2 linked regions of the Homo sapiens genome follow. The protein of the gene in region 1 purifies or fractionates together with the protein of each later gene. This does not show direct contact. Each region holds a gene or a part of one and is shown on either strand. Other genes may lie near its edges.

Region 1 (3,751 bases):
GAATCAGAAGAAAGGGCAACTGATGGTGCAGGGACTGGTCTCAGACAAGTAAGGGGTCATTTCACCCTATGAAGGTAAGGGAAGGTAAGGAGGTAGAGATAGAATAAGGTAGGTAGAGGTCAAGGTAGGATGGCAAGGGGGGGATTTCAGGCCCGATGGTCTCTAACTCCCTAATAAATGGCAATGAAAAGTTTCTTCTTGTAACAACAGACATTCTTGGTTTGAGGAGAACGATAAAGCTTTATCAAAGCTGCATGCCTCCCTAGGGGCACCTAGGCATGTGACTGAGGCCACATGGCCACAGTGTCCTCAGGACCCTAAGACGGCACAGAGACAGTGGATGGAGTGTAGAAGGCCTGGGAACGTAAACATACATGCAGTGGATGGACAAGGTAAGGACACTGAGAGCACAAGTATGAGAGTGGCTTAAGGGGTGGTTGATGGTTGGGGTGAAGCAGAGGCATAGAAAAGACATGTAGTTTCTATAAGTGGGGCGTTGGGGTGGCCACAGGTAGATTTGGGGATAGAGCATGAGACTGCTAGAAGGATGGAGGCTGGGCCGGAGTGGCACTGGATCTCAGAAGAGGGATGGATCTGAAAAGGAGATCCAGGGAGAGGGTGTGAGAGCTGATGTGGAGGAAGCAGCCACAGGATTAGAATTCACGGCATTTCTTGCCTAATGAGGTTGCCTGGGATGACTGGGAACGGGTGGAGAAAGAGGCCTGAGCCCGCACCAAAGCACAATGGAACGGAGCTTAGGATGGGTGGCGGAAGTGTGGGGCGGGAGGAGCGTGGGGCGGGAGGAGTGTGGGGCGGGAGCGTGGGGCGGGAGTGTAGGGTCTGGCTTGGGTATCACTTTAGGTGTGAAGGACGGGGGTTGAGCGAGTCAGAGCCTAGAGTCTGGTTTGTGGTCTGAGTGTCTTGCCTGGTACGAAGAGTTTCTAACAGAGTCTGGGATCCCTCTGAGAACAAGGAATGTGAGGGGATAAGAGGGATGCTTGGTGCAGAGATGTGCTCTTTTGTACGGGATGAGAGCAGCACAGGAAGGGAATGCACCTGTGATGTGGGAGAGAAGTCTTGGAGTTGGGCTATGAAGAGTCTGGGCGGGTCCTGAAGTGCAGGTGGAGGAAGCCAGAGGTGCGTGTGGGAACTTGGGGTGTGAGGTGGTGTGTGGACTCCGGGGTCCCAGGTGTGGCAGGTGTGAGGGTAAGAGGGGCAGGCTGCACGGAATGAGAAGCCCAGGGTGTGCAGACTTCAGGATCAGGAGTGTATGGTGTGAGGACATGGAGATTAGGTTAAGGGGGTGAAGGACTGAGGTGAGGGATGTAAGGTGGGGAGAGTGGGGTATGGAGTGTGCAGTGAGGGGAGCGGGGGAGGGGTGAGGCGGGGTGAGGCGGGGTGAGGAGGGGTGAGGGGTGAGGCGGGGTGAGGGGTGAGGCGGGGTGAGGGGTGAGGCTGGGTGAGGAGGCGGGTGAACGGTGACGTGAGCGATGAGGGGTGAGGGGCGAGGCGGGTGAGGCGGGGTAAGGAGGGGTGAGGCGGGGTGAGGGGTGAAGGGTGAGGCGGGGTGAGGGGTGAAGGGTGAGGCGGGGTGAGGGGTGAGGGGTGAGGCGGGGTGAGGGGTGAAGGGTGAGGCGGGGTGAGGGGTGAAGGGTGAGGCGGGGTGAGGGGTGAGGCGGGGTGAGGGGTGAGGCGGGGTGAGGGGTGAGGGGTGAGGCGGGGTGAGGAGGGGTGAGGGGTGAGGGGCGAGGCGGGTGAGGCGGGGTGAGGAGGGGTGAGGGGTGAGGCGGGATGAGGGGTGAGGGGTGAGGCGGGATGAGGGGTGAGGGGTGAGGCGGGGTGAGGGGTGAGGCGGGGTGAGGGGTGAGGGGCGAGGCTGGGTGAGGAGGCGGGTGAGCGGTGACGTGAGCGATGAGGGGTGAAGGGTGAGGCGGGGTGAGGGGCGTCGGGGGAGGGGCATGGGGTGTGGAGTGAGTGGAGTCGGGTGAGTGGAGTTGGGTCGAAGTCAAGGGTCTGGCTTGAGGTTGGTGCCACCGCGAACGCTAGGACAGGGTCAGGCGGAGCCCAGCCGTCAGGGCGCGTTGGGAGGGCCGGGGCCCAGGGGGGCGCGGCCTCGCTCACCTCCAGCTTGGCCCGCGCTCCGGTCCTGCTCTGGCGCCCCCAGCGGCCGCTTGAGGAACAAGGCCGCTCCTCGAGAGGGATGCCCCGCCCTTTCCGTTAGCGAACCCTCCCCGGAAGTGACCTCTCGCCCTCATTGGGTGTCCTCGGGAAAAGGGGCGGGGCATTCCGCGCTGCTCCCACAGGTCTGCGGCGTCCGAGTCTGGGACTGGCAGGTGCGGTGCTGGGGACGTCCTGAGGTTGAGGGAGAATCCTGCGGAGATGAAGAGCTTCCCGGCCTGACAGTTTTGCCCCCACCTCCTTCTTGAGCTTAAGGATTTATACGCAGGGCCCCGTTTGCCTGCTGTGTCCCCAGTGTCCAGGACAGCGCCCGGTACCAAAGGTGCTGGTAAACATTTGTCGAATGAGTCGCTGAACGCCCAGCTATTTCCACTGTCACAGCGATCATGTGTGGCGGACATTATGTGGCATGTATCTTACAGAGGAGGCAGCCCGGGCTCAGGGAGACGAGGCAGAGGTGCACGCAGGTCTATGTGGGCTGGAAAGTGCTGGGGCCTCCCGGGCGCTCCTGGTCTCCAGGCAAGAACTGGAAGCAGAGCCACTCAACACCTAGAAGGGCAGTGACAGAAAGCTCTGGCTGGGAGGAGGCTGACCAGAGGCCAGTCTGAGCTCAGCCTTTTTTTTCAGAGGGACGTGGGCACCCTAGAAGGGTGGTAAGTAGGCGAGTGGCAGAGTTAAAAGGTCTCTGGCTGCCGAGGCGGGTGGCGACGGGGCCGGCCGTTGCTGTTGTTTGGCTGAGTGGTGGACAGGGTCAAAGCCATTCCAAGGTCGACTTGACAGGGCTTGGTAATGTGGGAGGGAGGGAGAAAGAAGCAAGGGGCTAATGGCCGGGGTGATACCACTGGCAGAGATGTGGAAGAGTGGGAGAAGCTAGCTTGGAAGGTTAACTTTGATTTTGAACACCTTGTGTTTGAGAATCCTGACAAACCTTAGACCCCCTGAATTTTCTCTCAGGGATTCTGATTCTTAGCAGCCTGATTGCAGAGGAGGAAAAATGGCTGGGGTTGAGCCAGACAGTTCTGGGCAAGGAGTGAGCATTCGCTTGTTTATTGAGGAGGCTGCTGCCTGGGCCACACTCCCTCCGCCAGCTGCCAGGTTCCTGCCCCGGTTGAACCCGGTTTTCTGGCCATCCCTTTCCACCTGTGAGCTGCTCTTCATACTTCCATTTGCTTATACAGCCCAGAGCCGATTTCTGTTACAGCAGCCCAGAGAAACATGAATAGGGAATAATTCTTTTTTTTTTTTTTTGAGACGGAGTCTTGCTCTGTTGCCCAGGCTGGAGTGCAGTGGCACGATCTCGGCTCACTGCAACCTCCGCCTCCCAGGTTCAAGTGATTCTCCTGCCTCAGCCTCCCTAGTAGCTGGGATTACAAGCACATGCCACAACGCCCAGCTAGTTTTTGTATTTTTAGTAGAGACCGGGTTTCGCTATGTTGGCCAGGCTGGTCTCGAACTCCTGTCCTCAGGTGATCCACCCGCCTCGGACTCCCAAAGTGCTGGGATTACAGGTGTGAGCCACTGTGCTTGGCCCGAATCAGGAATAATTCTGATGGCTAAGGAAGACAGCTTCCGA
Region 2 (3,651 bases), on another chromosome or scaffold:
TTGTGGTGAGCTGAGATTGCGCCATTGCACTCCAGCCTGGGTGGCAACAAGAGCAAAACTCCGTCTAAAAAAAAAAGAAAGAAAAATACGGCCTACAGAGTTACACAAACACGTCCCATTCTATCCTGGCTATTACACAGTGGTATATGACCTTCAGTGAGTTGCATAACCTCCCTGAGGCCTTGTTTCCTCATTTTTGAAATCAGGACAATACCCACATCTCATAGTATTATTATTATGAGTAATAAGAGAGAAAACACGTGTGCATTTCTTAGCCCAGTAGCTGGGCTATTATCTAATGTTAGTTTATCATCTAATAAACTCTAATATCACCAATTGTTGGGAGCAGGCCCCCCAAATCTGGCCATAAACTGGCCCCAAAACTGGCCATAAACAAAATCTCTGCAGCACTGTAACATGTTCATAAAGGCCCTAATGCCCATGCTGGAAGGTTGTGGGTTTACGGGAATGAGGGCTAGGAACACCTGGCCTGCCAAGGGCGGAAAACCACTTAAAGGCATTTTTTTTTTTTTTTGAGATGGAGTCTCGCTCCGTCGCCCAGGCTGGAGTGCAGTGGCGTGGTCTCGGCTCACTGCAAGCTCCACCTCCTGGGTTCACACCATTCTCCTGCCCCAGCCTCCCGAGTAGCTGGGACTACAGGCACCCGCCACCATGCCTGGCTAATTTTTTGTATTTTTAGTAGAGACGGTGAAACACCATAGTTAACCAGGATGGTCTCCTGACCTTGAGATCCACCCGCCTCGGCCTCCCAAAATCCTGGGATTACAGGCGTGAGCCACTGCGCCGGCCCTTAAAGGCATTCTTAAGCCACAAACAATAGCATGAGCAATCTGTGTCTTAAGAGCGTGTTCCTGCTGCAGTTAACTAGCCCAACCTATTCCTTTAATTCAGCCCATCCATTTCCCATAAGGGATACTTTTAGTTAATTTACTATCTATAGAAACAATGCTAATGACTGGTTTGCTGTTAATAAATACGTGGGCAAATCTCTGTTCGGGGCTCTCAGCTCTGAAGGCTGTGAGACCCCTGATTTCCCACTTCACACCTCTATATTTCTGTGTGTGTGTCTTTAATTCCTCTAGCGCCGCTGGGTTAGGGTCTCCCCGACCAAGCTGGTCTCAGCAACCAATATTAGAGTTTTTTCTTAAAGTTCTCAGTCTTTTTTGCTAGTATTTTGTCTTCAAAACTTTTTTATTTTTGTAAGTCAGAGTCTTGCTCTGTCACCCAGGCTGGAATGCAATGACGTGATCTTGGCTCACTGCAATCTCTGCCTCCCGGGATGAAGTGATCCTCCTGCCTCAGCCTCCTGAGTAGCTGGGATTACAGACATGCGCCACCATGCCTGGCTAATTTTTGTATTTTTAGTAGAGATGGGGTCCCATCATGTTTCCCAGGCTAGACTCGAACTCCTGACCTCAGGTGATCCACCCACCTTGGCCTCCCAAAGTGTTGCGATTACAGGTGTGAGCTGGTGTGCCCTGCTGTCTTCAAAACTTTTAAGATATGCCCAAATAATAGATCTGGAACTAAAACCTATTTGTACAGACTTTTCAGCTTATTATTTCTATTTCTGATAGTGCAAAACTTCCAAACTAGCCTCAAAGATGAGACATGAATCCTTCTCCAGGTTTTCACCACCACCACCACCAGAATCTTCATCTCGAGATCACTAACTACATACACCCAGCCCTTCCTCTCCTGAAGGCTTTACCCTCCTGTTGATGGGCCATAGCTAAGTGTGATTTCCAATCAGCAGTGGTCCTGGCGTGGAGTCCAAAAAGCTCTTGCTTGAGACACAAGATAGTAGCACCAGTGATTCTTGCACTGACAATGGTTCTTACACCTAGCTGTGCCTCACCCCTGAAAATTCCACTCAGGTTCCTGAGGTGGAACCCAGACCCTAACACAGTAAACAAGTCCCACAAATGATTCTGATGCAGAACCAAGGATTGAGATCCACTACCCTAGAATAGTGGCCAAGTTGATTTACCCTGATGCTCACCCTTTTCTGACATTCCTTCTGGTGGCAGTGTCAGTAGCTTTCATTTGCCTAGGAGGGCAGAAACAAAGAAATGAATCAGAGACTTACAGTACTGTTAAGTGTGCTGTGAACAGGCAGAACAAAGAGCTTGAGTTTCTGAGGAAAGAACCAGACATAAAAGGCAAATGGCACAAGCTTAAGAGCTCTGAGAGACTATGCATTACTGCTTCGGCACAGATTATTGAAAAGGCTTTTTAGTAGCAAAGGGGCATGCCTCCGACCACCCTAACAACCTGACAGAGCTGTTCCTCTCAAGATGGCGTGGCTATCTCATGTCAACCTCACTCACCTGGAACTGACTGCTGGCTGGGGACATACACACACACTAGGGCTGGACTGTGTGGTCAGAGCAGCAACCTAGGATAACAACTAGTCCCCACCCTGCATGACTACCCCTCAGGGTTGCTGTATGACTACAGTGCTGCCACTTGTATGCTCAGAGCAAGCGATGAAAGAGGAAAGAACACCTCTTATAACTCTGGCTGTGTCTCTTCAGAAAGATCAACACAGAGGGTTCTGGCACAGAGCTCAGCAATGCTGCACTGCTCTGGGCCACTGATTGAAGGCCAGTTGTTCAGGAGACTTGTGTTGTCCAAAACTCTGTTTTCTAATTCTTTGTATTGAGCAATTTCTAGGAAGATGTTCTAACTGGATACTAATGATCCGTTCTCACCCATTCTCTCGTCTCAGTTTGGTGATTTTTGTAACATCATTCTCTGGACCTCCTGAATGAAGCTGTTTGGAAACATCGACTTCTTTGGACCTAACAGGTAAGAGACTCTTAGAAGTGGCCCGAGTTTGTGTGTCTGCAAAGGAAAATGAGAGGTAAAGCTTCTGGCATCATGACCCGACAGTTGCAACCCTGTAACAAACAGAGCCCCATTCGAAGTTGTCATAAATCTTTATTTTACTTTATTTTAAAAAGTATTATTTATTTTTTTGAGACAGAGTCTTGCTCTGTGGCCCAGGCTGGAGTACAGTGGTGTGATCTTGGCTCACTGCAACCTCCACCTCTTGGGTTCAAACGATTCTCCTGCCTCAGCCTCCCGAGTAGCTGGACTATAGGCACCTCAAATATGTTTTAAAATTTTAAAAATAGAGACAGGGTCTCACTATGTTGCCCAGCCTGGTCTCGAACTCCTGGGCTCAAGCAATCCTCCTGCCTTGGCCACTCTGGCGTGAGCCACGATGCCTGGCCAAATCTTTATTTTCATTCTGGCAAATTTCAACATGTGAAGATTAATTCAAAAGAATAAAACTTCCAGGCTAATTGGCAATAAAAACCAAAATTATTTAAACGTGACAGTACAGCATGTTTGAGGGTAGCCAAAAGTTTCATTGAACTGAAAGGTGTAGGCTGTAAAAGTGAACATGGAGATGGACACCAGCAGAGAGCAGGGTGGAAGTTAGCAGGTAAAACATGCCTGAATCCTTGTACCATCTCATTAAGCTCCTCCAAGCACTCTGCACACTCTCCTAAGGCATGACTGAGCTGCTCTGAGTTTTTTTAAACCGTTACTTCGTTGTTTTTACTAGAATGTCTTCCTAACCATTCTAAGGCATCTTTGTGTCCCCATCACCTAGGAAAG

What was found.
Region 2: the proteins of SYCE3 (region 1) and KNSTRN purify together in Homo sapiens (co-immunoprecipitation; 3 studies listed by BioGRID and IntAct, with this or other methods). This does not show direct contact.

What each region holds. Positions count from the first base shown.
Region 1 is NC_000022.11:50,560,737-50,564,487, forward strand, and holds the start of SYCE3 (synaptonemal complex central element protein 3), read right to left. Parts: upstream 2,184-3,751; 5' UTR 2,122-2,183; intron 1,343-2,121; exon of another isoform or gene 1,057-1,342; intron 1-1,056. UniProt on the Homo sapiens protein: Major component of the transverse central element of synaptonemal complexes (SCS), formed between homologous chromosomes during meiotic prophase.
Region 2 is NC_000015.10:40,385,579-40,389,229, reverse strand, and holds part of KNSTRN (small kinetochore-associated protein), read right to left. Parts: intron 2,869-3,651; coding exon 2,736-2,868; intron 2,072-2,735; coding exon 2,024-2,071; intron 1-2,023. UniProt on the Homo sapiens protein: Essential component of the mitotic spindle required for faithful chromosome segregation and progression into anaphase.